Homo sapiens: one gene and its partners. The protein of the gene in region 1 purifies or fractionates together with the protein of each later gene. This does not show direct contact. Each region holds a gene or a part of one and is shown on either strand. Other genes may lie near its edges.

Evidence for each region.
Region 2: the proteins of PLD2 (region 1) and TOMM70 purify together in Homo sapiens (affinity purification with mass spectrometry, with the first as the bait; one large-scale study listed by BioGRID). This does not show direct contact.
Region 3: the proteins of PLD2 (region 1) and VBP1 purify together in Homo sapiens (affinity purification with mass spectrometry, with the first as the bait; one large-scale study listed by BioGRID). This does not show direct contact.
Region 4: the proteins of PLD2 (region 1) and KIFBP purify together in Homo sapiens (affinity purification with mass spectrometry, with the first as the bait; one large-scale study listed by BioGRID). This does not show direct contact.
Region 5: the proteins of PLD2 (region 1) and DNAJA2 purify together in Homo sapiens (affinity purification with mass spectrometry; 3 studies listed by BioGRID and IntAct, with this or other methods). This does not show direct contact.
Region 6: the proteins of PLD2 (region 1) and DDI2 purify together in Homo sapiens (affinity purification with mass spectrometry, with the first as the bait; one large-scale study listed by BioGRID). This does not show direct contact.
Region 7: the proteins of PLD2 (region 1) and TTC1 purify together in Homo sapiens (affinity purification with mass spectrometry, with the first as the bait; one large-scale study listed by BioGRID). This does not show direct contact.

The regions. Positions count from the first base shown.
Region 1 is NC_000017.11:4,816,779-4,821,077, forward strand, and holds part of PLD2 (phospholipase D2), read left to right. Parts: intron 1-158; coding exon 159-277; intron 278-297; coding exon of another isoform or gene 298-367; coding exon 368-481; intron 482-1,223; coding exon 1,224-1,328; intron 1,329-1,518; coding exon 1,519-1,607; intron 1,608-1,715; coding exon 1,716-1,829; intron 1,830-1,995; coding exon 1,996-2,045; intron 2,046-2,305; coding exon 2,306-2,440; intron 2,441-2,650; coding exon 2,651-2,804; intron 2,805-4,299.
Region 2 is NC_000003.12:100,394,265-100,398,674, reverse strand, and holds part of TOMM70 (mitochondrial import receptor subunit TOM70), read left to right. Parts: intron 1-4,410. UniProt on the Homo sapiens protein: Acts as a receptor of the preprotein translocase complex of the outer mitochondrial membrane (TOM complex). Recognizes and mediates the translocation of mitochondrial preproteins from the cytosol into the mitochondria in a chaperone dependent manner.
Region 3 is NC_000023.11:155,236,599-155,240,949, reverse strand, and holds the end of VBP1 (prefoldin subunit 3), read right to left. Parts: intron 2,179-4,351; coding exon 2,108-2,178; 3' UTR 1,109-2,107; downstream 1-1,108. UniProt on the Homo sapiens protein: Binds specifically to cytosolic chaperonin (c-CPN) and transfers target proteins to it. Binds to nascent polypeptide chain and promotes folding in an environment in which there are many competing pathways for nonnative proteins.
Region 4 is NC_000010.11:68,991,803-68,995,302, reverse strand, and holds part of KIFBP (KIF-binding protein), read right to left. Parts: exon of another isoform or gene 3,435-3,500; intron 1-3,434. UniProt on the Homo sapiens protein: Activator of KIF1B plus-end-directed microtubule motor activity. Required for organization of axonal microtubules, and axonal outgrowth and maintenance during peripheral and central nervous system development.
Region 5 is NC_000016.10:46,959,808-46,964,217, forward strand, and holds part of DNAJA2 (dnaJ homolog subfamily A member 2), read right to left. Parts: intron 1-4,410. UniProt on the Homo sapiens protein: Co-chaperone of Hsc70. Stimulates ATP hydrolysis and the folding of unfolded proteins mediated by HSPA1A/B (in vitro).
Region 6 is NC_000001.11:15,651,420-15,655,829, forward strand, and holds part of DDI2 (protein DDI1 homolog 2), read left to right. Parts: intron 1-286; coding exon 287-476; intron 477-4,410. UniProt on the Homo sapiens protein: Aspartic protease that mediates the cleavage of NFE2L1/NRF1 at 'Leu-104', thereby promoting release of NFE2L1/NRF1 from the endoplasmic reticulum membrane.
Region 7 is NC_000005.10:160,032,793-160,037,202, reverse strand, and holds part of TTC1 (tetratricopeptide repeat protein 1), read right to left. Parts: intron 2,064-4,410; coding exon 2,003-2,063; intron 513-2,002; coding exon 400-512; intron 1-399.

The DNA of each region.
Region 1 (4,299 bases):
GCTGAGAGCAGGGTCAGAAGCTGGGGCTGGTACTGAGAGTGGGATGAGAGGGGTCAACGGTGGTACAGCCCTCCCTCTGGCAGGCTCTTTCTCCCTGCCCCAAGTGTCCCAAGGAGTCCAGCCCTGACATCTCCCCTGACTCTCCTGGGACCCCCCAGATTTCATTGACAGGGAGACGACCCCTCGGATGCCATGGCGGGACGTTGGGGTGGTCGTCCATGGCCTACCGGCCCGGGACCTTGCCCGGCACTTCATCCAGCGCTGGAACTTCACCAAGGTGTTCATTCCCTCCGATAGGGGCTGGAGGTAGGGAGGGAGCCAGGGCAGATTGGCACCTCCTGCTGACTCTGCCATCCCTCCACGTCAGACCACCAAGGCCAAGTACAAGACTCCCACATACCCCTACCTGCTTCCCAAGTCTACCAGCACGGCCAATCAGCTCCCCTTCACACTTCCAGGAGGGCAGTGCACCACCGTACAGGTGAGGCCCCCCACTTCAGCCAGCCCTCCCCTTTGTCTCCTTCAGCCTAACACCCCAACCCACTCTCCCTGGTGTGAGAGCTGCCCACACTCTCCTTTCCTGGGGTTAAGAAGCACATCACGGCCAGGCACGGTGGCTCACGCCTATAATCCCAGCACTTTGGAAGGCCAAGGCAGGCGGATCACAAGGTCCGGAGATCGAGACCATCCTGGCTAACATGGTGAAACCCCATCTCTACTAAAAATACAAAAAATTAGCCGGGCGTGGTGGTGCGTACCTGTAGTCCCAGCTACTAGGGAGGCTAAGGCAGGAGAATCGCTTGAACCCAGGAGGAGGATGTTGTAGTGAGCTGAGATCACGCCACTGCACTCCAGCCTGGGCAACAGAGTGAGACTCCATCTCAAAAATAAAATAAAAGGCCAGGCGCAGTGGCTTACGCCTGTAATCCCAGCACTTTGGGAGGCCGAGGCAGGCGGATCACGAGGTCCGGAGAGCAAGACCATCCTGGCTAACACCATGAAACCCTGTCTCTACTAAAAATACAAAAAATTAGCCGGGAGTGGTGGTGCGTACCTGTAGTCCCAGCTACTTAGGAGGCTGAGGCAGGAGAATGGCGTGAACCCAGGAGGAGGAGCTTGCAGTGAGCGGAGATCATGCCACTGCACTCCAGCCTAGGCAACAGAGCGAGACTCTGTCTTAAAAAAGAAAAGAAATGAAGCACATCGCATTCACCATTCCCTAGGTCTTGCGATCAGTGGACCGCTGGTCAGCAGGGACTCTGGAGAACTCCATCCTCAATGCCTACCTGCACACCATCAGGGAGAGCCAGCACTTCCTCTACATTGAGGTCTGACTGGGAGGAGGTGGGGGAGAGCATGGAAGGGGTGTCCCAGGAGAGAGACCTGGGGAATGAGTGGAGTCAGTCATTGAGGGCTGGTGGAGCAGAAGCAGACGCCTGGAGCCTGGGACCAAGGCTGGAGGCCGAGGACAGGGCCAGGGGCCAGGCTGCTGATGTCTGTCTCTGATTCTTGCCCCAGAATCAGTTCTTCATTAGCTGCTCAGATGGGCGGACGGTTCTGAACAAGGTGGGCGATGAGATTGTGGACAGAATCCTGAAGGCCCACAAGTAAGGTGGACTGTCAGGAAGGTGGGGACTGTGGGTGTGGTTTGAGCCCGGTTGAAGGGGGTGGGGTTTGAGGGACCAGTCGCACCTCTGACTCCACCCCCTCCCCAGACAGGGGTGGTGTTACCGAGTCTACGTGCTTTTGCCCTTACTCCCTGGCTTCGAGGGTGACATCTCCACGGGCGGTGGCAACTCCATCCAGGCCATTCTGCACTTTACTTACAGGTGACCCCCCAGGCGGACTCCAGCTCTCAGTGGCCCCATCCCACCCGTGTCCCCCTCCTGATTCTGTCCTGATCCCTTCCTGCTGGGCCTTAAAGAAGGGCCACCTCTCCTGACCTCCCCTCCCCTCTGCCAGCCTCCACTTCTCTCCCTCTTTCTTTTCTCTCAGGACCCTGTGTCGTGGGGAGTATTCAATCCTGCATCGCCTTAAAGCAGCCAGTGAGTGCTGGGGGCTGGGGGCTCAAGCCCTGGGCCCCTGGGAGAGGGAGATTGGGGCGCTGCAGGCCTGGGGGTGGGGGAAGGAGGCTGTCACTCCTGTGAGCCTCTGACGCTACGCAGACCATAGCTGGCCTTTCACTGCAGGGAGAAGGAGAGAGACCAGACTCTATGTAGGAAGAGTTTCTGGAGTGAGAGGAGGTGGGACAGGGCCCTGTGCACACAGAGCCACCTCTCACCTCACTTCCCCTCCTGTCACGCAGTGGGGACAGCATGGCGGGACTATATTTCCATCTGCGGGCTTCGTACACACGGAGAGCTGGGCGGGCACCCCGTCTCGGAGCTCATCTACATCCACAGCAAGGTGCTCATCGCAGATGACCGGACAGTCATCATTGGTCAGTGCCGGATCTAGTCCTCTGGCAGGGAGAGGGTGTGGGGACAGGCGAAGAGATGAGAGGCAGGATGACAGAGACTGCAGCTGAGGCTCGTGTAGGGGTGGAGGGTCCAAGAAGGAATGTTGCAGGCCAGTGCTTTGGTAGAGGGGATGGGGTACTGGGGAGAGTGCCCTGGGCCCAAGCACACAGTGTGCCCCGCATCCACCCCAGGTTCTGCAAACATCAATGACCGGAGCTTGCTGGGGAAGCGGGACAGTGAGCTGGCCGTGCTGATCGAGGACACAGAGACGGAACCATCCCTCATGAATGGGGCAGAGTATCAGGCGGGCAGGTTTGCCTTGAGTCTGCGGAAGCACTGCTTCGGGTAGAGCTGGGGCGGGATGCCACAGGGTGGGAGGGAGATGGGGGCGTCTGCCTTTTGAGCAGGACAAGAGGTAGCACCGCATAGGTACTCCCGGAGCCAGAGGTAGAGGCAGTACTAGATTCTCAATAGGCAAGGCTGGGCGCGGCAGCTCACGCCTCTAATCCCAGCACTTTGGGAGGCCAAGGCGGGTGGATTGCCTGAGGTCAGGATTTTGAGACCAGCCTGGCTAACATAGTGAAACCCGTCTCTACTAAAAATACAAAAAATCAGCTGGGTGTGGTGGCGGGCGCCTGTGATCCCAGCTACTAGGACTAATCAGTTTAGAGTATCAGTAAAGCAGGAACACCAAAAAACAAAAAGAGAAAAAAATCTTTTTTTTTTGAGACGGAGTTTTGCTCTTGTTGCCCAGGCTGGAGTGCAATGGCGAGATCTCAGCTCACTGCAACCTCTGCCCTGGGTTCAAGCGATTCTCCTGCCTCAGCCTCCCGAGTAGCTGGGATTACAGGCATGCGCCACCACGCCCAGCTAATTTTGTATTTTTAGTAGAGATGGGGTTTCGCCGTGTTGGTCAGGCTGGTCTCGAACTCCCGACCTCAGGTGATCCACCCACTTCAGCATTCCAAAGTGCTGGGATTACAGGCGTGAGCCACTGCACCTGGCCACGAAAAAGAAATCTTTTTTGTTGTTGTTGTTGTTGTTGTTGAGACACGGTTTCACTCTTGTCGCCCAGGCTGGAGTGCAATGGCACGATCCTGGCTCACTGCAACCTCCGCCTCCTGGGTTCAAGCAATTCTTCTGCCTCAGCCTCCGGAGTAGCTGGGATTACAGGCGCCCACCACCACGCCCAGCTAATTTTTGTATTTTTAGTAGAGACAGGGTTTCGCTGTGTTGGCCAGGCTGATCTTGAACTCCTGACCTCAGGCTTCGGCCTCCCAAAGTGCTGGGATTACAGGCATGAACCACCGCCCCTGGCCAAAAAAAAAAAAAAATCTTTTTTTTTTTTCTTTTTTTTTGAGAGGGAGTCTCACTGTCGCCCAGGCTGGAGTGCAGTGGCGCGATCTCGGCTCACTGCAGGCTCCGCCGCCCAGGGTTCATGCCATTCTCCTGCCTCAGCCTCCCGAGTAGCTGGGACTACAGGCACCCGCCACCTCGCCCGGCTAATTTTTTGTATTTTTAGTAGAGACGGGGTTTCACCGTGTTAGCCAGGATGGTCTAGATCTCTTGACCTCGTGATCTGCCCGCCTCCGCCTCCCAAAGTGCTGGGATTACAGGCATGAGCCACCACGCCCGGCCAAAAAAAAAAAACTTTTGTGTTTTGTTTGTTTGTTTGTTTTCTTTTTGAGACGGAGTCGCTCTGTCACCCACGCTGGAGTGCAGTGGCGCGATCTCGGCTCACTGCAAGCTCCGCCTCCCGGGTTCATACCATTCTCCTGCCTCAGCCTCCCGAGTAGCTGGGATTACAGGCGCCCGCCACCATGCCCAGCTAATTTTTTGT
Region 2 (4,410 bases), on another chromosome or scaffold:
TTCTTTCAGTACTAAAAATTGATGATTCTCATTATGATCATTTATAATAGCTCACTGCTGCTATTAAAAGTAGTTATCAAGAGGATTATTTGAATTAATTATCACTTGTCTTACATCAATTTTGGATGTCTGAAATTCTCCAGTCATTTTCTATTTCGTTTGTTAATTTAGTTTTAATCATGGAAGAATAGTAGGTAAAATAAAAGATCCAAAAAGTTCTCAGTTCTGTAAACATTAAAAATAAAGATAGTTTCTATACATGAAACTAAATTTTTTTTTTTTTTTTTTTTTGAGACAGCGTCTAACCCTGTCACCCAGGCTGGAGTGCAGTGGCACGATCTTGGCTCACTGCAACCTCTGCCTCCTGAGTTCAAGCAGTTCTCCTGCCTCAGCCTCCTGAGTAGCTGGGATTACAGGCATGCGCCACCATGCCTGGCTAATTTTTGTATTTTTAGTAGAGACAAGGTTTTGCCTGGTTGGCCAGGCTGGTCTCAAACCCCTGACCTCAGGTGATCCACCCACCTCGGCCTCCCAAAGTGCTAGGAATTACAGGCACGAGCCACCTCACCGGCTGAAACTAGATTTTAACATTTCATTGTGGTTTCAGCCACCCCACCTCATCCCAGGGGATCTGTACCATTGGTATTTGATAAAACCTAGCCATCTCCTTTTCACATTTTAGATGTCCTAATTCCTCTTTTCCACGTTGTCTGGATCAACACTGATGATTTTTTAATTTCATGATATTTCAGAGTTTTTTAGTTTTACAAATAACTTTTTTTTTTTGATACGGAGTCTCACTCTGTCACCCAGGCTGGAGTGCAATGGCGAGGTCTCGGCTCACTGCAACCTCTGCCTCCTGGGCTCAAGAGATTGTCCTGCCTCAGCCTCCCAAGTAGCTGGGATTACAGGCACGCACCACCACGCCTGGCTAATTTTTGTATTTTTAGTAGAGACAGGGTTTCACCATGTTCGCCAGGCTGGTCTCAAACTCCTGACCTCGTGATTCACCCGCCTTGGCCTCCCAAAGTGCTGGGATTACAGGCATGAGCCACTGCCCCTGACCACAAATAACTTTTTATTCACCTGACTGCTGTTAAAAATTAGAATTTAAGATTGGACTCTTTGTGTAACTTAAACTGCTTTAAAATGATTTATTTTTGGCCCCAAATAAAATAAGGCAAAACATTTGCACTTACCATTGTCCATCTTGTGGAATATGTAGGCCTACACCTGTAATCTTTGAATTACTAGATTGTTCTTTGGTAAAGCAACAATAGGAAGGTCTTTGTGATTTTTTTAAACTGGAAATTTATATCTTAACTGTTGGTGACCAGTAAATATTGAAAGACTACTTTTGTCTTCTTTTAATAGTCTGGTCCTTAGAGTTATTATTAGACTATCTAAATGTAATTAATTGATCAGTAATTGTAATTTCTTATCTGTGGTTGGATAAACTGCTGTACATTTGAATAGCACCTCTAAATTGGCATCCTCGGTGGATTTCGCAACCAGAAGCATTTGCTTTCACTGATGGAAACCTGGCAGAATCCTGATGCCCTAACTGTCCTTTCTCCACCTGAGCAATAGCTACAGTTTTTAAAGGAATGAATAAATAGACAAATATTGTCTGTTTAGGGTTTGATATCAGAAAATAGAATGGAAAATCTGTATTTTTGTCTTTTGGCTTATGTTTACCTTAATGTAAAATGATCTGATAGAATTACTGGACTTCTGTCTATTGGGTTGGAGATTTTCCTTTACAATTAGTGTGCACAATTACCTTTTTTCTGGGATAGCAAAAACTTGTAAAGGAAGTGCAAAGGATATTCATAGTTGTTTTAATTAATGGGAATATTGGGGTATCACTGAAGAAAAGCATTTAGTCACAGTTGATAGTGTCTAAGACTGAGGTGCTTAAAGTATTAGATCATATTCCATTTTGAACTATTATAAAATCTACCATGATGTGCCATTTTGCTTCAGTAATTTTTTTAAACTTGAAGAATTAAAAAAAAATTTTAAATTGCAAGGCTTTTTAGAAGATCATATTATCCATAGTGCTTCTCAATCTGTGGGCTTGAGTCATCACGAGGGACCACCACACATATATTCCAAGCATGGTATCCTGGCTGTACCAATGTCCCAGATACTTCTTTTTCAAACATCCTGTGATTTTCTAGAAAAATGCACTTATTTAAAAGCATTATTGACTTCATTGTAACTTTTTTGTCCAATTGTTATTTAATCTGATGATAAAAAATGCATCATTCTTGTGTTCATATTTAGCATTAAATATGTTTAGCCCATGAAATGAGTTTAGCCCACATGAAATGGTTAGGAACCAATAATCTAAGCCAGCCTACTACAGTAGGAAAGGGAAGATGTACCTACACATTTTAGTAAAGGGTCGAGGACTGCATAAACTGTTGTTATTGGTCATCTTGTTTGAAATGAAGTCATTCTCTCCCCCAAATGATCTGTTTTGAGTCATTTTTAAAAAATCAATCAGGGACACCAATGACATTCCCTCTAAGCTTAGTTAACACTTTTCAATCTTAATCCTTGGCAGTATTTCATATTGTGCTCTAAATGTCATAACTTTTCCTGCTGCTTCTGAGGTACTCCATTTTCCTGATTTAAAAAAAAAAAAAAAAAAACCTGATACCAGCCTCATGGATTCTTAGTCTCCTTATCACAATACAGAGGTCATTTCATCTTTTCTGAAACTTCTCTCTACCTAAGCACACCACTATGTGATTTTATAACACCCTGGACTTTTCCATTTTATAGCACTTACCACGTGGTACTAGAATTGCTTATTGCTGTTTCCTGCTATGCTCTTGAATCTGTGAAGGCTGAGACTGGCTCTATCTTGTTCACCATTGTATTGCCAGAACCTAATACAGGTGCATAGCAAGTGTTGAATGAATGAAGTTTCATTTTTTGACTAATAATTAAGGGTTCCTTTGACATCCCTAAGTTTATATTTTATATATGTGTGTGTGTATGTATATATAAATTTCACAAGTGGTATATTTTTCAAATTTTCCAGCTCTTCATTTTTGTTCTACCAGTTAATGCTGGATTCCGTGGAAATCTTTTTTCCTTTCTCTTTTTTTTTTTTTTTTTGAGTTGGAGTCGCGCTCTGTCACCCAGGCTGGAGTGCAGTGGTGCAATCTCTGCTCACCGCAACATCCGCCTCCTGGGTTCAAGTGATTCTCCTCCCTCAGCCTCCTGAGTAGCTCGCCACCATGCCTGGTGAATTTTTTGTTTGTTTGTTTTGGGTTTTTTTGTTTGTTTTTTGAGATGGAGTCTCACTCTGTTGCCCAGGCTGGAGTGTAGTGGCGCAATCTCGGCTTACTGCAACCTCTGCCTCCCGGGTTCAACCGATTCTCCTGCCTCAGCCTCCCGAGTAGCTGGGATTACAGGCGAGTGCCACCACACCCTGCTAATTTTTTGTATTTTTAGTAGAGACAGAGTTTCACCATGTTAGCCAGGATGGTCTCAATCTCCTGACCTCATGCTCTGCCTGCCTCGGCCTCCCAAAGTGCTAGGATTACAGGCGTGAGCCACCGCGCCTGGCCGTAAATCTTAAACCTCATTTGGGCATACTTTTTGTAAATCAGTTGATTATGCATGACCTACAATCATAATCCTGCAGAAGCAGTCATTATAAAAGTATATTCTTCCTAGGTAAAGAGTTATTATGATTTAGTAGGTGGGGTTGGTTGTCATTTTTAAAATTTCCAGACGTGAAATGGGAAAGGACTTTTTTATTATCTTAGGTTTTATTCCTTATTAGGTTTGAATCCTTATTATCTTAGGTATTATTATCCTAGGTTTGATTCATATGAAAGTAACAATTGGTTGGCCAGGTACAGTGGCTCACACCTGTAATCCCAGCGCTTTGGGAAGCTGAGGCAGGTGGATCACCTGAGGGCAGGAGTTCAAGACTGGCCTGGCCAACATGGTGAAACCCCATCTCTACAAAAATACAAAAATTAGCCGGGCATGATGGTGGGTTTCTGTAATCCCAGCTACTCAGGAGACTGAGGGGAGAGGATCACTTGAACCCGGGAGGTGGAGGTTGCAATGAGCTGAGATCCTGCCATTGCACTCCAGCCTGGGTGACAGAGCAAAACTCTGTCTCAAAAAAAGAAAGAAAGTAAGTAAGTAACAATTGGTCAATAAGTATTGAAACATTGTTTCTCATACAGTAAGTGTTCCAGAGTTATTTAGGTTGCAGTGAGTGGACATCGTGCCCCCCTGGGCGACAGAGCAAAACTCTATCTCAAAAAAAAAAAAAGAAAAAGTAACAGTTGGTCAATAAGTATTGAAACATTGTTTCTCATACAGTAAGTGTTCCAGAGTTATTTGCTACTTCTATAAAGCTGTGATTCAAGTATA
Region 3 (4,351 bases), on another chromosome or scaffold:
TAACTGAACATCCATTTTATAATGAAAAGCAGTTCAATTTAAGTTGCATTTCCAACACATTTCTCAGCATCAAGTTCTGTAGTCAATCTTTTGCCCATATCCTCTCCTAGTACGCTATACTAATATTAAACTTCAAAATATGTCAAATCAGGATGGTTATGTTATTCTGAAAATGTAAACCACTCTAACAGAAATTATCTGGCAGAGGTAAGATTTAAATATCTTTATTTAATTAACAGAGCCTAACACAGTTCCTGACCCATAATGGGTGTTTTTAAATATGTTAAATAATTACCTTAATTTTTGGCCTGTAATTCATATCTCGAAAGAGTTTTGTTTCTTCATAGTCCTTGTAATTACCTAAAAATCCATATTTATACTTTCAAAGACAAAATGAAGATCTTCGGAGCAAACCATTCCTGTTCTAACATTAACAGGAACATTTCATACCAATATATACTTACCATAACAAAGTTTGGGGAAAATGAGCACATACAATATCTCAAGATGTTTACAAACCTCAAATTCTAAAATATGAGAATTTAAAATTATGAAAGAAAAATTCAATCAAGGAAATTCTGTTATCTTTTCAATGAACTTCTCAATTGTTTGCAGATCTGTATTCCTTCCACAGGGATTTTATGGTGTTTCTAGAAATATAAGTTGTTCTTGGAACATGCTAGTATATGTACAAGTAAACTTTACAAATACGTGAAAAGACCCATGTTAACTTTAAAAAGGTGTTATTGTCTGAATCTTTGTGTCACCCCAAAATTGTTATGTTAAAATCTTAACCCCCAAGGTGATGGTATTAGGAGGTGGGGCTTTTGGGAGGTGAGTAGGTCATAAGGGCAGAGCCCTCATGATGAGATTAGTGCCAAATTAAAGAGGCCCAAGGGAGCTCCTTGCCCCTTCTGCCACATGAGGGCACAGTGAAAAGGTGCCGTTTACGAACCAGGACACAGCCCTTACCAGACACCAAATCTGCCAGCACCTTGATCTTGGACTTCCCAGCCTCCAGAACTGGGAGAGATAAATTTCTGCTGTTTATAAGCCCCCCACTCTGTGGTATTCTGTTATAGCAGCCCAAACATAGTAAGACAAAGAGTAACATGAAAAAAGTGCTCTGCCATAGTTTTAGCATCACTGTTTTAATTTCATGAAATACAAGTACAAAACATTGTATAAGTATACTTTTTACTACATGGAGATGAACTAATACATTTATGTTTTTATCAGAATCTGTATCACCCAGCGCTGGTCAATGTACTAGTAGCTTTCCACAGGGATTTTTTATACTATTCCTATAAGGTTTTATCATGAATAAAAAAGCTCACAACTCTTTTCAGCCATTGCAGATTCACATTTATCTTAATATTCCTGTTCAAGATGCTCTGGAGAACTGTTAAGAACTACAAAATCACCTTAGGCAGAGTTTTGAATGAGTAATTTTATTTCACGTTGGCCAAGATCTCCCTTATGTTGGCATTGCAAAGACACTGCACTTATCTGAGGTTAGAAAAAATGTAGTCTTAATAGCCCTCTTAATGTGTAGCAAGGCAAATTACCATTTCCTAAAATGTCCAGAATATCATAGTAGTTAGTTATTCGTTAAGCAGTAAGTCATGAAACTCCACTTATAGAAGACAATAGCAACAGAGGACCACTAAGTCCTAAATATACCAAAGAAAAACAAGTTTACAAATATTCAAACTGTCTGTCTTCTCTACCTCTAAAATGGTTTAACCACATCAAGTGAGAGTAACATCAGCCAATTAGAAAGGGAAAAAGTAAACTGTGCTAGCGTCCGGCATTCAGCTTCCATAGCATGTCTCACAGTTTTCGGCCATTTCAGCTAAGAGTTTTCTTATGACAGGCAAAAATAATGATTAAAATACCATTAGCTTTGCTGAGAAATGTGGAAAAAAAAATCACAATGTCAAAAATATTTGAAACTAATTTTGTTTTTATAAATAAATAAAATGGTGTTTATCTTTTCTTAAAATTCTTGCTGTTAAAACATTCAAAGTTATGTCAACCTGTAAGGATAAAGGGGTATTTAAGATAACATGTTTGGAAAACTAAACCACATTTTTAATTGCCAGCATTATGCTTTGTTCTTGGTAGAGTCATCCTTGTTTCTTCTTTTTACATCCCAATTATAAACCCTGGCCATATCTGCAAGAATTGTCAAAGAAAATGCAAATGCAATTCTAAAGATAATGCATGCAATGACTAAGTATTCACTCCACTCACACAATGAATCAAAGACACAGAAATGAAACATATACAAATACTGGTAACAAATAGTATTGTAAGACATCCTGCTATAATGTCAATTGTTAGGAAAATACTATAATTAAACTCTATCAAAACTAAGGACTCAAATTAATTGTTAACCCATTGTTTACTATGGTATTAGTCAACTGTCAGCTAGTCAACTATGATATATTTAACAAATATGTACTAGACACTCTCGATAGTTTTAAAGACAGTCCCTCATCCAAGAAATCTGAAAGATCACTCAACCCATATCCTGCCATGTAATATTTATATTATTACAATTATCAATAATTTTATCTCTTACCCTCCCTTTGGCTTAACAAGTTTATTAAGCATCTACTGTATTTTTGACTAGGCACTGTACAAAGCCCTGACCTGAATAAGACAGGTGAAGTTCTTTTCCTCGTGGAGCTTAGACTCCAGTAGAATGTCAATGTAACAGAGACTGTCCACCCTAGCTCCCTCACTTGTCTGCACACCTTCCTTTCCTACCTTTTGCAGTACTAGCAATAACAAATGGCATTTAACTAAGCTTGTAGGACTCATCTTAGAGGATTTCCTCACTTTTGGCTCCTGTACCCATCTAAGTCACTGGATCCTGTTTTTTTCTCACACGTTTAATATCTTTTCCTTTCCACAAGCCACCCGTCCTAGGCCCTCGTCATCTCATAGCTGGATGAAGTTTCCACACTACCCGTCAGATGATGATGACCACTGCACTAGGCCCCAACAGGCCTGCCTTCCCTCAGCCAACCATAAACAACTGCCACATGCTGCACACTGGAAAAGAAGAGAAAGTGCAGCTCCTACATCTGAAGAGCTCACGGTTTGGCAAGGTAAAACTAAGCAGTATGTGTTAAGCAAGCACACAAGAAACACTCTGAGGATCAGAAAATGTTCAGGAAAGCTCTGATGCTTGGACTGAGATATTTAGGGTAAAAGGGTAAAAAAAGAGCACATCCTGTAAATATGGGAAAGTCATTCCAGTTAGGAGGAACAAAGTGTAGAAATGCAAAGGGTGTGGCACAATTGGGGAGTGTGTACAATAACTGACTGGGGTTATCTGGAACCTGGAATGCACTGGGGAAAGGCAAGAAGAGGTCAGTGGCATGAGGTGAGACAAGCTGGGGGCACTTCACAAGAGTGCCTATATGTATATCTTGTAAGTAACAAGGAACCGTTGAAATATTGTAACCAGAGGAATAAAAATGAGTGACCTAGTAAATTCATACTAGAGATAGTGGGAAGGACAGATGGAATGAGAGGAACCTAAAAAGGTTCTGAGTGCAGGTTTTGGAGCCCCAGAACGAGAACAGTAATGGGCAGAGAGATTTATGAGGGAAATTTGATGTGAATCTGGCGACTGATTTATTATTGGTAGTGAGGAAGAGAGAAGTGTGAAAGGTGACTCCCGTGATTTTGTCTTGAGTGACTGTGACAGGAAGTAGGAGGAAAAGACAGGCCAGAGAAGAAAGGCAAAGAGCTTGCCTTCCCCCTTGACCAGAATACCCCACTCCCACCTCTTCTCTCTGCTGATCTTTAAACCCTACGCCGCCTTTAAAAAAGCAGCCTAACTTTTATCTTCTCAACAAAGCCTTCTTTGAACTAAGTCCAGCCTACATCTATCTTTCCCAAAGTTTAAATTGCCTTGGTGTTGCATATGTTAACTTACTTATAGTTTGCTATGAATTATCATTCAGCTGTTTTACATGTACAGTTCTACCAGAGAAAGGCACTGCCACTCTTTTCTAAAATTGATTTTCATGCCCCATATGTCTTAGCACAGTTGCAGGAACATAGGAGACCCTTAAATGCTTGTGAAATTAAACTATTTAACCAGTTATAAAGTTGTCTTGGGAAAATATTTGGAAGAAAAATACTTACTCACCTATGTGAATTTGCTGTTTCCACATCACATTTCAAAATCACTAATCTATCTACAAACTTATTTAAGTACTAGTTCCGAATATCTTATTTATTATCTTATAAAATCTATAACCTTTATATTAGCCTAATAAGGAAATTCTTCCCACTAAAGCAATGTAAGAAAGAATGTGGGAGGTTTTTT
Region 4 (3,500 bases), on another chromosome or scaffold:
TAGGCTGGGTACAGTGGCACATACCTGTAATCCCAGCACTTTGGGAGGCCAACGCAGGCGAATCACTTGAGGCCTGGGCAACATGGTGAAACCCTGCCTCTACAAAAAATACAAAAATTAGCTGGGCGTGGTGGTGTGACCCTGTAGTCTCAGCTACTTAGGAGGCTGAGGTGGGAGGATGGCTTGAGCCCAGAAAGCAGAGGTTGCAGTGAGCCGAAATCCCACCACTGCACTCCAGCCTGGGTGACAGAGCCAGACCCCGTCTTCAAAAATAAAATAAAATTTCTACATAGTCCCAGCTATTCAGGAGGCTGAGGTGAAAGGTTCACATGATCCCAGGAGTTTGAGGCCAGCCTAGGCAACATAGTAAGACCCTGTCTCTAAAATAAAATAAAATTCTACAAAATGCAGGGTTGGGGGCAAGCAGAAGGGAGGAAAAGAATATAGGAGAGAGGGAGGGACTACAAAGGAGCACAAGAAAACTTTTGGTGGTGACAGATATGTTCATATCTTGATTGCAGTGATTGTTTCACAGGTATAAATATATATGTCAAAACTCATCAAACTGTACCCTTAAAAATATGTGCAGTTTATTATATGCCAATTGCAACTCAATGAATCTGTGAACAATAACAACAAAAAGTACTCCTATACATATATAACCTGGAGTGGGGACAGCAATCTACTAATTTCCTAGGAAATTTTACTAAAGTGAAGTAATCAAGATGGTAGTGCCAGTGTGTACTGGTGATAACAAGGATCAGAAGGAATACCAGATAAAAATTATTCCTAAGGCACTGGAACCCAGAGAAGACAGAAATCTCTTGATAATCTAATGTAATATCAATCTCTTTTGATAAATAATATAGAGCCAAGTTCTGTAGTTCCCCAAGGAGAATACACCAGATTAAGACAAAGCAGTTAGAATATCATGAATTCCCATTAACTGATACTTGCAAAACTCTTCCATATACACACACATACATACGTATTTGTATATATTCACATGTATATAAACTTTTTACTATATGTGTATATATAATGTAAGTATGTGTGTGTGTGTGTATACTTAGTCTTATACAAAAATAGGATCATTCTATAAATTTTTTTTTTTTCTGAGACAGGGTCTTACTCTGTCACCCAGGCTGGAGTGCAGTGACACCATCTTAGCTTACTGCAGCCTTGATCTCCCAGGCTTAAGCAGTCCTCCCACAGCCTCCTGAGTAGCTGGGACTACACATGCATGCCACCACACACAGCTAATTTTTGTTTTTGAAAAACTGCTATTTATTTGACCAGAAAAACATTTTGGACTTAAGAAATGGCAATAACTGGCACATATACTAATTCAAAATATTTTCACAAAGCACCAAATAGAATAGTTCCCAATCTTTTCACTGAGAAACCTTTGAAAGAATGCCTAAAACTTAATCAGTTTACTTAGGTTTTTAATCAAGAAATCTAAAGCAGCCAATCAGAGTTTCTAATTACCATGAGATGACCAGGTTAACAACCTTGAGGTTGCAGGAGCTTTTAAAAGCTTTGTTTAGGCTGGGCTCAGTGGCTCATGCCCATAATCCTTGCACTTTGGGAAGCCGAGATGTGAGGATCACTTGAGGCCAGGAGTTTGAGACCAGCCTGGTCAATATAGTGAGACCCCATCTCTATAAAGATAAAATTAAATTAAATTTAAAAAAAAAAAAGCTTTGTTTAACCTACGCATTCTAACTGAGATTTGTTGACCTCAGGCTACTAATCACAGGTCCATGTGCCAGATACCTTGCACACACAAAATTGAGTAATAAGTATCATGTATAAAAGATAAAGACTATATGGTCCCTGTATATTTAAAAGGAATAATACCTAATTCTCATGGGTGAACAATTAGTGAGGGGCAAAGAGACAGACAGAAATTACTAACCCACAAGGGAGAACCAAGCAAGGTCAGTAGAAAAGAGAAAAGTCCTGTGCTCTGGGAATGCAGCAGAAAGGGCATTGGGAGGTTGCAGGGACCAGGCAGCAATCCAGGTCATACCAGGAACATGAGTGGATGTCAGTAAGTGTGGGAAGGAGCCTTCAAGGCTGAAAAAAACTAAACAAGCCAAGACACAGAGCCACAGGAGTACTGCCTGTTCAGAAGACAGTGAAGCATGTGTTCTGGGTAACACGATGTGAACTAAGAAGAGACATAAAACTCAGGAAAACCTCACCCAACGAGAGCCCAGAAACAACACTGGTCTGTATTTCTTAACAGCAATTCAACAGAGAATCTGAGGTGGCCTGCAAAACTAACAAGAGAGTAAATTATCTTGAAAGGGCAGGGGCACCACATGCTCTCTGTGGAGGTTCAGTAGCCAAGGATCACCCTGCAGCCCCTCCCCAACCCTACTGTGACACCCCAGACCCTTGGAATCAAATCCACTAGCAATAACCTTCCTTAATGGAAAATCTCTCCCCTCCCCAAATGTAAAACAAAAGATAAAAGCAAAGAAAACAAAACAAAAAGAGACCATCAGAGCAAGCTTTAGCCCTCATAACTCATCTATGCCCCACTGACAACAGGGTCTACTCCATTACTTAAACTGATTTGTAACACTGCTCCTACTACATCCTCCTCTTCAAAAAAAGTAAATAAACACCACACAAAATATAAACTTACCCCAAACAAAAGTCAGCATCAACCTAAGGATCCTACCGTAATGTTACTACGCTAACCCAGGATATTTTAATCTTCTTCCAAACCATTTACAAAAAAATTCCTCATCTGAGACCTCTGGAAGCGTTACAAATACTGTTACATTAGATTGTTCTTCTTGAGGTAGTTTTAAGTCTTGAAACAAAAAATTTACCTATTTTTCTACACCACTGCTAAGGGGTTAATTATTATAAAATGCCTACAACCAAAATCCCCATCCCCTTGATTCTCAAGCTATTAGAAATTTTTCCCTCATATCAAACAAATGGGAAACACACATAAAAAGATGAAAAGTCATGCAAAAATTTTTAAAAGGCCAGACACAGTGGCTTATACTGGTAATCCCAACACTTTGGGAGGCTGGGGTGGGTAGAATTGCCTGAGCTCAGTAGTTCGAGACCAGCCCGAGCAACATGGTGAAACACCGTCTCTCTAAAAATACAAAAATTAGCTGGGCATGGTGGCAGGCACCTGTGGTCCCAGCTATTTGGGAGGCTGAGGTGGAAGGATCGCTTAAGCCAGGAGGGTGGAAGTTGCAATGAGCTGTGAAGGTGCCACTGCTATGTAGCCTGGGCAACAGAGGAAGATTCTGTCTCAAAAATAAAAATAAAAATAAAAAACAAGCAAAAAAAAAAACCCACATAAAAAAGAAAGTGTATCATCATACGAACAGTCTAAACTTTGCCTAAGACAAAAAAAAGTTTACTTGGTTTACCCAAGGTACAGGCATGTTATAAATAAAGTACTCAAGAAATTAACATCTTATAAAAATAGTGAAAAAATTTTAGGTGGGAGCATAAAACTA
Region 5 (4,410 bases), on another chromosome or scaffold:
ACAGGGAAGGGGGGAGGGTCCAAGATCAACATAAAACCCAACATCAACCAGTTAACACCCAGCCAGCAAAGTCAAGTGGCTCAATTCCGTGCTTCACACACATACCAACAAGTCTCACATCTCACTAAAATGCAAAACTGGCTCATTCAATATTACACTATAAGCCTATGGACTAGGTAATGCAAAAGGTATTGAGAATAAGCACAAAGAATGTTTCTGAGCCTTCAATGTGTAGGAAAAATACATCCAACTTCACACGCCCAACCTGCAATTTTTGCTTAGATTTTACAATGGTCACTCTTCTTGTAAAGAACAATCCTGGCCGGTTCACTTATAGAAAATCTGGTAGACAGGTTCTTTTCCTATGTTACTCTCCTAAATTTACTCATTAAACAAAGTTAAACCATTACCTTAACCAATGATTCTCTAAGTGTGGTTCTGGACCAGCAGCTTCAGGAAACTTGTTAGGAACACATATTCTTGGGCCCCACTTCCATTCCTGCCAGAAACAAGGCAGGCAAGATCCAGCATCTGTAGTCCTAACAAGCCCTCCAGGCAATTCTTGTGTGTGTGCTAAAGTTTGAGATCCAAGAAGGTATGTTATGTATGCACATATATTCAAGTGTTCCTCACAATGGGACCAATAGTTTTTTTAATGCAGGATTTTTCAACGCATTAAAAATGCTAAGTAGGCCAGGTGCAGTGGCTCACACCTGTAATCCCAGCACTTTGGGAGGCCAAGGCAGGCGGATCACAAGGTCAGGAGTTCAAGACCAGCCTGGCCAATATGGTGAAACCCCATCTCTACTAAAAATACAAAAATTAGCCAGGTGTGGTGGCACGCGCCTGTAGTCCCAGCTACTTAGGAGGCTGCGGCAGGAGAATCACTTGAACCTGGGAGGCGGAGGCTGCAGTGAACCAAGATCACACCACTGCACTCCAGCCTGGGCGACACAGCGAGACTCCATCTCAATAAGAAAAAAATAAAAAAATTTAAAAAAGCTAAATATAGGGTCAGAGCTTTGGGAGGCCAGTTCAAAACAGCAACATAGGGAGACAAAAAATTAAAACATAAACTAGGCTAGTTGAGGCAGGACGATCCCTTGAGCCCAGGATTTGGAGCCTGCAGGGGCAGTCCCTCCTCATTAATGATCCAGCCACTGCACTCCAGCCTGGGAGACAGAAGGACATCCTGTCTCTTAAACATAATAATAATAAATTTAAAATAAATGCTAAGTATACTGTAAAATGCCAGTGTTCTAAGAACCATCTTACCAAATATCCTTTGTTAAAGTCATACTATTTTAGGATGCATGCAGTGGCTCATGCCTATAATCCCAGCACTTTGGGAGGCTGAGGCAGGTGGATCACCTGAGGTCCTGGTCATCATGGCGAAATTCTGTCTCTACTAAAAATACAAAAACTAGCTGGGTGTGGTGGCATGAGCCTGTAGTCCCAGCTACTTGGGAGGCTGAGGCAGGAGAATCACTTGAACCCGGGAGGTGGAGGTTGCAGTGAACAGAGATCGCGCCACTGCACTCCAGCCTGGGTGACAGAGTGAGACCCCATTTCAAAAATAAAAACAAAAATAAAAAGTGGGGCAGGGCACGGTGGCTCACACCTATAATCCTAGCACTTTGGGAGGCCGAGGTAGGCAGATCACTTGAGGTCAGGAGTTTGAGACCAGCCTGGGCAACATGATGAAACCCCATCTCTACTAAAAATACAATTGCGCCACTACACTCCAGTCTGGGTGACAGGGCAAGACTGTCTCAAAAAAAAAAAAAAGAAAAGGGAACAGGAAGAGATACACATCACGTTCTTGTACAGGAGAGTTCAACTGAAAGTGATTTCAATAAAAAATGATTATGATTATCAGGATGGTTGTTGCAGCAGAGCGGGGAAGCTAAACAATTTGATGTTAAAAGTTTAAACAGAATAAACAAGCAAGGATGCCAGAGAGTTTCTGAAAAACAAGATTAATGAGGAGGGACCACCAAGCACTAGACCAGAAAACACTTAGAAGTCATATTTCTGAATAACAAAAGTACAGGTTATAGAGGCGTGACTAACATCACCAGGTTCTGTGGTTTGATGCTGTACAAGTGCACTATGGTAACCAGACCACCGAGACACACAAACAGGCACACTGACAAGTGACATGGCAGGATGATGACTATAGATGATACAGCACTCCCAAGAAGGAACGAGACAAACTTCCATTCTAACCTTTACCATCTTCTATTTTCTACTTTAGACAACTAGCTACATCTGCCTTCTGTTGAAAATTCCATGCCAATTCCACTGCTGCCAACAATTTTCAGAGATGAGTTACTTCCCAACACCTCCCCACAGGCCCCAAGAAAGAAGCTTATTCATAATCTCATTTGACTCTTTAATATCCAAAAAGTCCAGGGAAGCCAAAGCTAGTAAACGGGGCCCAGACCTTAAGTCCTTTGCCTCCAAATCCAATGATCTACTTTTAAAAACCCAATTTAATTATGCAGCAACATTAAAAACTAAACTTAGGGATAAAAAAGGTTTTACCATCAGTTTGACATGCCTCAAACCAAAAAAAAGTCATCCTTCCTCTGCAAATAAGCATTCCTTCTTCACTTCCTATCATGCTGCTGCACTGCCAGACATCATTTGACAACGAACCCCAAACGACTCCAAGGATTCTATCAATGAAAATGCCCAGGCACTGTCTGTACCATTTTACAACACAGTCTAACCTCCAAGCAGAATTTCCAATTATTTAGCTGTCTTGCTAGCTTTCTCCCTCATATTCCTGGTATGGTGGTGTGCACAGCAGCAAGACTGAAGGAACAAGGAAGTAGCTAAAATGTTAACAAATAGCAAATCTTGTAAATATTTCATTCTACAAGACCCAAAGGCAGAATTCTAAAAACTACTCTTACTTTTTGACAACCGAGGAGACGTTTGCTATCTGTAGGGTTGGCAATTTCCACAAAAAGCCAAAATACATAATTTGTAGCTTTGCTGAGTCATGAAAGCTGACTAGCATGCCCTGATTGTCCAGGAGATCAAGTCTGACCTTGTGAGGGATTACTACCAAATTCCTAAAACCTGCATCTCAATATGGCTTTGTTGTTCTCTATTGGATTCTTAAAGTGATTTTTAAAATTTACTCTATTTGAAGAAATGATCACCACAGAAGGACGATCTCCTTCTTTATCAAATATAACCTTTAAATTATAAATGATAATCAGCTTGCCCACCTTTTTAGAATTAAAAAGAATAACCTTTCACTGAACATAATACAAATTTACCATTTCTCCGTGTTCATTGGGCTTATGCATAGGAGAAAATTTTAGGGCAAACTAAAAAGGTGGTTAACCTGTGATGTAATGATTTTCAGAGGAACACATGAGTAAATGTGATCAAGTACAAAGCTAGAGTCCTATCAAGTGCTTCTAACATTCAAGAATTTAGGTGATTACTGGAGGGGTTTTTCATGAATAGTTCCAGATTTATTCTTTGAGTAGGGTCTACAGTATACAATATGGACATTAAAAATATACAAGTGCAATGTTAAAATCAAAATAACATACACTAGGCTGGGCACTGTGGCTCACACCTGTAATCCCAGCACTTTGGGAAGTTGAGACAGGAGGATCGCTTGAGCTCAGAAGTTCAAAACCAGCCTGGGCAATATGGCAAGACCCTGTCTCTACTAAAAATACAAAAAAAAAAAAAACCCCAAAAAACAAACAAACAAAAAAATAGATGGGCATGATGGTGCACCAGTTGTCCCAGCTACTTGGGAGGCTGAGATGGGAGGATTGCTTGGGCCCAGGGGCGAAGGTTGCAGTGATCCCAGATCACACCACTGTACTCCAGCCAGGGCGACAGAGCAAGACCATCTCAAAAACAAAAACCCCCCAAAACATACACTAGTGACCACATTCTTCAGAAGCTTCTAAAAAAATATTTTTTTTAAAAAAAATCCCAGAACCCTTTCAAGGATAGCTCACTTGGGTACCCAATAAGTAAAAACCAAATCGACAGAGCAGCAGAGTTTCACAGTGAAAATACAGGCTGCCTTAGATCAACTGGTCCAACACCCAGTGCCCTTATTTTCATAAACAAAGAAACTGAGACAGTAAGATTACCTATGGTTAAAGTGTTAGTCAATGACCAGGCCAGAGGAGAATCGCTTGAACCTGGGAGGTGGAGGCTGCAGTGAGCCAAGATCGTGCCACTGCATTCCAGCCTGGGTAACAAAGCAAGACTCCGTCACACACACACAAAAAAGACCAAGGCCAGGCGCGGTGGCTCCCGCTTTTAATCCCAGCACTTTGGGAGGCTGAGGCAGGCAGATCACCTGAGGTTGGGAGCTTGAGACCAGCCTGACCAACATGGAGAAAGCCTGTCTCTACTAAAAAT
Region 6 (4,410 bases), on another chromosome or scaffold:
GTGATTCTCCTGCCTCAGCCTCCCAAGTAGCTGCGATTATGGGCATGTGCCACCACGCCTGGTTAATTTTTGTATTTTTAGTAGAGGTGGGGTTTCACCGTGTTGGCCAGGCTGGTCTGGAACTCCTGACCTCAGGTGATCTGCCCTCCTCAGCCTCCCAAAGTGCTGGGATTACAGGCATGAGTCACCGTGCCTGGCCATTTGTGATTGGAGTTTTAAATTAAGGAGCATAATTTTTCTGCATGGTGTTTTATCTGCTATTATTCTTTGGTTTCTTTCTTCCAAGTGTTCCATCGACCTGAAGAAAAATGTACTCGTGATCGGCACCACAGGCTCCCAGACCACCTTTCTTCCTGAGGGAGAGCTACCAGAGTGTGCCCGGTTGGCATATGGGGCTGGAAGAGAGGATGTACGGCCAGAGGAGATTGCAGACCAAGAATTAGCAGAAGCCCTTCAAAAATCAGCAGAGGATGCAGGTATTTGGGATGGCCAAACTCTTCAATACTTGTTATTGATGGGTAAGCCCGGGAAGTGTGGGCTTCAGAAGGGGTAGGAACCTTTCCAGTTTTTAATTAGTCTCATGGTCCAGTAGTAGATGTGTTCATTATTTGTCTTCTTAACCTCCTTCTTTGATCTTCCTTTTTTTTTTTTTTTTTTTTTTTTGGAGACATTGTCTCACTCTGTCACCCAGGTTGGAGTGCAGTGTGCAGTGTGACATGATTGTAGTTCACTGCACCCTTGACTTCCTGGGCTCAAGCAGTCCTCTCACCTCAGCCTCCTGAGTAGCTGGGACTACACCTGGCTAATTTTTTATTTTTAGCAGAGATAGGGTCTTGCTGTGTTGTCCAGGCCTATCTCCAACTCCTGGGCTCAAGCAGTCCTCCTGCCTTGGCCTCCCGAAGTGCTGGGATTACAGGTGTGAGCTACCATATCCAAACCCCATCTCTTAATACAATAATGAAAAAGTCTGTATTCTGGCCCGGCGTGGTGGCTCACGCCTGTTAATCCCAGCACTTTGGGAGGCTCCGGAGGGGGGGGGGGGGGGGCGGATCACCTGAGGTCAGGAGTTTGAGACCAGCCTGGTCATGGTGAAACCCCATCTCTACTAAAAATATAAAAATTGGCCAGGCGCGGTGGCTCACGCCTGTAATCCCAGCACTTTGGGAGGCTGAGGCAGGTGGATCACGAGGTCAGGAGATGGAGACCATCCTGGCTAACACGGTGAAACCCCGTCTCTACTAAATATACAAAAAATTAGCCGGGCGTAGTGGTAGGCGCCTGTATTCCCAGCTACTCAGGAGGCTGAGGCAGGAGAATGACATAAACCCAGGGGGCGGAGCTTGCAGTGAGCTGAGATCGCACCACTGCACTCCAGCCTGGGTAAGAGAGCGAGACTCCATCTCAAAAAAAAATAATAATAAAAATTAAAAAAAAATTAGCAGGGTGCAGTGGCACACCCCCCGTAACCCCAGTTACTTGGGAGGCTGAGGCAGGAGAATTGCTTGAACTTGGGAGGCGGAGGTTGCAGTGAGTCAAGATGGCACCACTGCACTCTAGCCTGGGCAACAGAGTGAGACACTATCTCATAAAAAAGAGAAACATTCTGTTTTTTAGTATTTCAACAGATTAAGAACAGCTCAGTCCATTGCTGTGTTTAAGATAGATTGGGGTTATTTTGCTTAGACACATTTTAGAAGCTTCCTAAATTTTTTTAGGAAGTTTTTTTTGGATGTTTTTGTTTTTGTGATTTTCCTAAAGAAAATTTTGACAGTAAGCAGATGTTAACTTTTGAGTCCAACAGTATTTCCCTATTTCTTTCCTTTTCTTAGGACTGTTTTATTTTATTTTATTTATTTTATTTTATTTTATTTATATAGACAGAGTCTTGCTCTGCTGCCCATGCTGGAGTGCAGTGGCGCAGCCATGGCTCACTGCAGCCTCAGTCTCAGTCTCACAGGCTCAAGCAGATCCTCTCGCCTCCGCCTCCCAAAGTATTACAGGCATGAGCCACCATGCCTCTTAGGCCTGGTTTATTTTGAAAAGTATCATTGCTACTGTGTGTGAGCAGCCCTAACTTCACCGAAGACAGAAGAACCAACAAAAAGAAGTATAAATTTTTATTTACTTAATTAAAAAAAAAATTTTTTTTTGAGACAAGGTCTTACTCTGTCACCCAGACTGATCCTCCCATCTCCCCTTCCTGACTAGCTATGACTACAGGTGCCTGCTACCATGTCCAGCTAATTTCTGTATTTTTTGTAAAGATGAGGTTTTGCCATGTTGCCCAGGCTGGTCTTGAACTCCTGGGCTCAAGCAATCCACCCGCCTCAGCCTCTCAAAATGACAGGATTATAGGAACGAGACACCATGCCTGACCAGCATAATTGAACGTTACTGAAAATGCAGTGTTATGGTGTGAGATTACAGTATTGTCATCAGGCCATATTAGCACTGTATATATTGAAATCATGCTACCTAATACTTTTTTCTAAGTCTCAGTTATTTAGCTTGTTTAAATGTAATGATGGAGCTAAGTTTTCTAGGTAAAATGGGGTAACAGTTTTGCTGAAATCCCCCATTTATTATAGAACGGTGACTCTGGGATGTATTTTCTAGAAGCTGAATAGAATTTACTTTTGAGTTTGGGTTATTTTACAGTCTTGTGCTGGCATTATTCATCAGTATGACTAGTATCACACATTGCTTTTTCTAGTACAGTAAATTATTAAGAGTTACAAGTTCAGGGAATAGCTTTATCCTAAAGACGAAAGTGGTAAGAGTTTTAAAAACAGCCAGGCAGCTTTTGCCACTGTTTTACTGGAGAACATTCAGATGTCTGTCATTGAGCTTTAGAATGGGTGTGGGTGGCAGATGGAGTTTTCCAGGTTGACTTTGTTCAGAATCAACTCCATCACCTTTTGGCTTAGTTTTATGTATAAAGTACAGTTTGAGTCAGGGCGTGGTGGCTTATGCCTGTGATCCCAGTACTTTGGTAGGCCAAGGCAGGACGACCACTTGAGCCTGGGAATTTGAAACCAGCCTGGGCAACATAGTGAGTCTTTGTTTCTACAAGAAATTTAAAAAAAAAATTAGCCAGCCATGGTGGCGCGCCTATGGTCTCAGCTGTTTGAGAGGCTGAGATGGGAGGATCACCTAAGCCCAGGAGGTCAAGGCTGCTGTGAGCCATCATCGCTGCCACTGCAATCCAGCCTGGGTGACAGAGTGAGATCCTGTGTCCAAAAAAAAAAAAAAAACAACAGAATTGACTCCCATCACTTTTTGGCTCAAGTTTTTATATTAACTACAGTTTTGGTTGTAACTTAAGTATTTTGTAGGAAGGGAGGAATTTTGAACAACCAGACAGAGACTAACTTAATAGTTTTAATCTTACCTGCAAGGTAAGCTTGAATGAATTTGACATAGCTCCTTACAAGGTTTTGCATTTGGGGTGTAATTTATCATCTTAGTCGTGATGCTGTGTGTTAATATGAGGATATATTATCATTTTATGAAATGTCTTTTTTTTTTTTTTCCTTTTAACCTCCACAGTCTTGGTGCCATTATTTAAGAAACATTAGCTGATAATAGCAGTGTTTTCTAACCTACTAATAACAGTTATCCTTTTTTGGTAATTACCTTATTTTAGTAAAAGTTTGGAAGATTAAAACAGATACACATATGTTTCCAGGCTTAGTGAAGGGGATGTACCAACTTCAAAGAATTAAAAAGAAATGGCTTTTTACCTAAATAACCTTTTGTTGCTGGTAGTATAGCTTGTGCTAATTTTTGTAATGTTTAAGTAATGAAATAATTCTACATATCAGGTCCTTTTTATTTAGAACATCGACTTCCTAATATCATCCGAATAAATACTCTGGACATAGTAGGTGAAAGTATTTTGTTAACAACTTCTTTCTGGCCAAGCATGGTGGCTCATGCCTGTGGTCCCAACACTTTGGGAGGCTGAGGTGGGGAGATCACTTGAACCTATGGATTTGAGACCAGCCTGGGCAGCATGGCAAAACACTTGTTTCTAAAAAAAAAAACCACGGCTGGGCGCAGTGACTCACGCCTGTAATCCCAACACTTTGGGAGGCTGAGGAAGGGTGGATCACCTGAGGTCAGAAATTTGAGACCAGCCTGGCCAACATGGTGAAACCTCATCTCTACTAAAAATACAAAAATTAGCCAGGCATGGTTGTGGGCGCCTGTAATCCCAGCTACTCGGGAGGCTGAGGCAGGAGAATTGCTTGAAGCCGGGAAGCAGAGGTTGCAGTGAGCCAAGATTGCACCACTGCACTCCAGCCTGGGCAACAGAGTGAGACTCCTTCTCAAAAAAAAAAAAAAAGAAAAAAAATTAGCCAGGCATGGTGGCATGCACCTGTGGTCCAGCTACTTGGGAGGATGAGG
Region 7 (4,410 bases), on another chromosome or scaffold:
TTAAAGATGCTTTAAAGCCCAGAGTTTTTACCAGTGTTTCCCTGTGCCTTTGCATGTTTATCTAGAATTCCAGAGGCCTAAAATAAGGATCTAGAGCTATTCTAGGACATGCACTGCTTGGCTCATTGCTTCATTAACCTGACCTAGTTTAGCAAAAAATTTGCCAGCCCTCCTTCCATGAAAGTATTCACTCAGCTACTTTAATGGGGAATGTTAACAGTAATCTGACTCAAGTTTTTCAAAAGATTTTCTATTCTCCCTGTGGCCTTTACATCAGGGAAATATATGGGCAGGAAAAGGGAGGCAGCAACCTCTATGCTAGTTTCTGGAGAGAAACTATGGTATGAAAAGACTGCAAGTCCATGTGCTTTTTAAAAAGAAAAGGTCACAGATACATACCTGTTTCATCCTTGCTGCAGCTCTATTTGAAAATAGAATCGACCTCTCCTTTTGGAAGCAGGATGGGCACATTTCGAGGGCTCGACTATAAGAACTTTCAGCTTCTATATAATCTGAGGATAAGAGAAAGGATGAATGGTCATTTTGATTTTATTCCTGATACTACTATATTCCACAGGATCTCAGAAGCACTGTTTTCCATTCATAGGATGAAGGTTTTGAGTTAAAAGATGGTAACAGTCTATTAAGTCTGGCGCAGTAAAAATCATTTCTTCTTTTCTTCTCTCTTTAAAGGAACAGTGCTTGCTTGTGCCAATCTCACAGGCTGTGCTTGGTGAACTGACAGCTGAACATGCTGTCAGTGACAAGCCCTCAATACTCAGGAGTCCTGGCATTCCCTCAATGTTCAGTTTTCATTTGGCTGGGCAATTCAGAAAGGAGTTTTCAAAGGAGGTTACAGAACTGGACAGAGGAAAGAGACTAAACTCTGGGATCCATGGCCTGAGATAAAGAAAAAAATTATACATATTTGTTTTCATTAAATCTGTTGTGCTTTCATACAGTCAACCTGGCTAAAACAGCATCCGTGAAATGTTTGAAGAGAGACATTTGATAGAGCTAAAAGGAACAATGTAAAAATCAATATTTAAATCAAGACCTTAAAAGAGAAAATGGTGAAAAAGAGAATTATGGTCAGGATACTAATAGAAAATTGCCTATGTACTCCTTTCTCAGGTTTGAAATATTTAATATTAACATACAAAAAATATGCTTCCAAAATTAGAAGTGTTTATTCTATTAGAAAACAGTATTAATGATTACTAAACCAAGATATAGGAAAAAAAAAAAAACCCTAAAATCTGAAATCAGGTAATAGGGTAACTTTTGGAAAACAATAAGAAAAAAATTAAAAACCTGAAAATAACTAGCGGAAAATGTTAACACTCCTAGATTTCTGAAGCATATACACTTTAAGATGTGACAGAAGACTTTTGCTCTAAGATCAAATAGTTACCCCAAATTATCAGAATGAACCCCACCAACTTATTTCTAAGCAAATGTAGAAAATGCAGAAGGACATGAAGAATCTCCCTACTTAAGGCATCCAAAGAAAATGGCACATGAAAGAGCAACCTTTCTGAAGCAGTTTGGAGAATTTAAAAAAAGAAAGAAAGAAAGAAAGAGCAACCAAAGGACAGGCAGCCCTAGGCCATACCAGAGCAGTCAGGCTGCTTTCACAGCCCCACAGCAAGTGAGGAGCGGCGACTCTGCTTTCACAGCAATGCAGCACATAACCTTTAATATTCCAGGTTAGTGTTTTCCAAAGCAAGAGCTCAAGAGTTTTACCCCTGATTCTAGACTAACAGATAGTGGATTACAGAAAGACTATGCATGTGCCAAGAGACAAATGGTAACTGGTCACCATCAGATGAATAATTTGGCCTGGTTAAAAACTCAAAATGCCAAGGTACTGGGAAGCAACACTGTATTGTGAAGTCTGGTTTTGGGGTTTCTTCAGATGTTCTTTGGGGTTTCTTCACAGACTCTACAACAGGATGAGGAGTCAAGATGACCAGATTATCAGTGCTGAAAGTCGTCTTACCTCCTTTCTTAAACTGTTCATTTCCCTCCTCCTTTAGTCTAGTGCTCTCTTCTCTTCTTTTCTGAAAGACATCAGAGAATTACATAATTTCTCACAATATTATTATAAGTGAACAAAAAGGTGAGCTTTCCTTATGCACAAGTCTATTTAATAGGCAACAGTCTGACTTTTGAGAACTGCATCAGTTTCACCAAAACCTTGTACAGTGATAGAGGAAAAAAAACACATGACCATCAGGCTAATTATCAATTGCATTCTTGATGTTTAAAACAAAAAATGTAGGTCTTCTTGGCATGTCCTTTGCTTTCTATGTTTCTATCTTTTGCAATGGAATGATAATTACAGTATCACTTAATTTCTACTTACTCAGAAATGAAACTAAATAACATACCCACTGGTGTGCATACCAGTGTAAATTCAAATTGTAGCTTCTAGTACTTACTAGTTATGTGGCCTCGGACAAGTTTCAGAATCTTTCTGAGCCTTAGTTTCTTCATTTCAAAAATGAAGCTTTAATAGTATTATGGACTACTGTTTAATGGATTAATGTCATAATATACATAAAGCTGCCCATACAGTGACTAGCAAATAAGGGCTCAATAAATAAGCTATTATTTTCTGTGAAATAAGTACTTTAATCCTTATAAGAACCCTTCATGGTTTGTGTCATGAAGGAGACACAGTATGCTAGGAGAGCACATTTGTGGGTACAAGCCAAGTCTGTAGGGTTAGGGCAGTATACTGTTAGCAGGTTAACATAGGAAAATGTGAAGAAACCTAAATAAATAAGTCTGTCTTTTCTTAGCTTATTCAAACAACTCAGAAACTCACATAGATGGCCAAAAACTCATCAAACACAAAGGCTGAGAGAATGTTATCCTGCAAAGCAAAGTAGACGCATGCTGAGTGTGTGCACTTTTTTGTGGAACATCTTAACAATATAACTGGCACAAGCCAAACCAGAAGAGTCTGTATGCCTGCCACCTTTTGACAGTGCTTTAAAACAAAAACAACAAAAAAACCCCAAAAACAGAAAATCTACCAAAGTCCCTTAAAAAAAAAAAAAAAAAAAAAGAGATAGGGTCTCACTATGTTGTCCAGGCTAGAGTGCAGTGTCTATTCACAGATGTGATCAACACACACTATAACCTTGAACTCTTGGACTCAAGTGATCCTTCTGCCTCAGCCTCCTGAGTAGATGGGACTATAGGTGCACACCACTGTGCTGGGCTCTTTCCTCCTTCTTGAAGCTTCTGATTAAGTAATTTCAAAGGGAGGAAATACAGTTAGCATTCTGATTAAGTAATTTCAAAGGGAGGAAATACAGTTAGCAGGGTATTTCATGCACAAGAGAAGCCTGGAACCTAAACAATTGGTCCTTTTAACATGAGGAACTGATATGATCTGTGTTCCTACCCAAATATCCCCACGGGTCAAGGGACGGACCCTGGATCATGGGGACGGTTCCCCCATGTTGTTCTCATGATAGTGAGTTCACTTTCATGAGAACTGATGGTTTTCAAGTGCCACACTTTAAAACCATCAGCTTTCTCTTCACTTTCCGCCATGATTGTTAAGTTTCCTGAGGCCTCTATAGCCATGTGGAACTGTGAGTCAATTCAACCTCTTTTGTTTATAAATCACCCACTCTCAGGCAATTCTTAATAGCAGTGTGAAAATGGATTAATACAGGAACCAAAATAAAAACATTCTTTCTCTGGAAAAGATTTGTCAATATGCTATTGATGAGACCGGGTATTTCCCAAATGTCTTATTATTACACTATGGATTAAACAGAGCACTTGATGAATCTCAGTGAGGAAACTAAAAGGTAAGTATAGAGTGAATCTAATTTTTATGGTACATACTATGTGCCAGACACACAGCAGGTACAAATAACAATTCATTTTAAGATATAACGTATCTGAGGGAAGGGCTATTCTAAAGGAATTCAGAAAAAAATAAAATATAAGAATATGGCCATATTTACCTAGTACTACCCATAAGAAAGATGCTTAGATTGTAATGATCTCTACTGTATTGATTAGGGTTACTGGATGCAAGCAAAAGACTATCTTAAGCAAAAAACTTTAGGGGGCAGGTTTACTGGCAAGGTATCAGTGCTCACAGAATCAGTGAGAGGCTTAACGAATAGGCTTAGAAAGCAGGTAGAACTTGGCTGGGCGTGGTGGCTCACGCCTGTAATCCCAGCACTTTGGGAGGCTGAGGCAGGCAGATCATGAGGTCAAGAGATTGAGACCATCCTGGCCGACATAGTGAAACCCTGTCTCTACTAAAAATACCCCCCCAAAAAAAAAAATTAGCTGGGTGTGGTGGCAGGCGCCTGTAGTCCCAGCTACTCAGGAGTCTGAGGCAGGAGAATCACTCGAACCTGGGAGGCGGAGGCT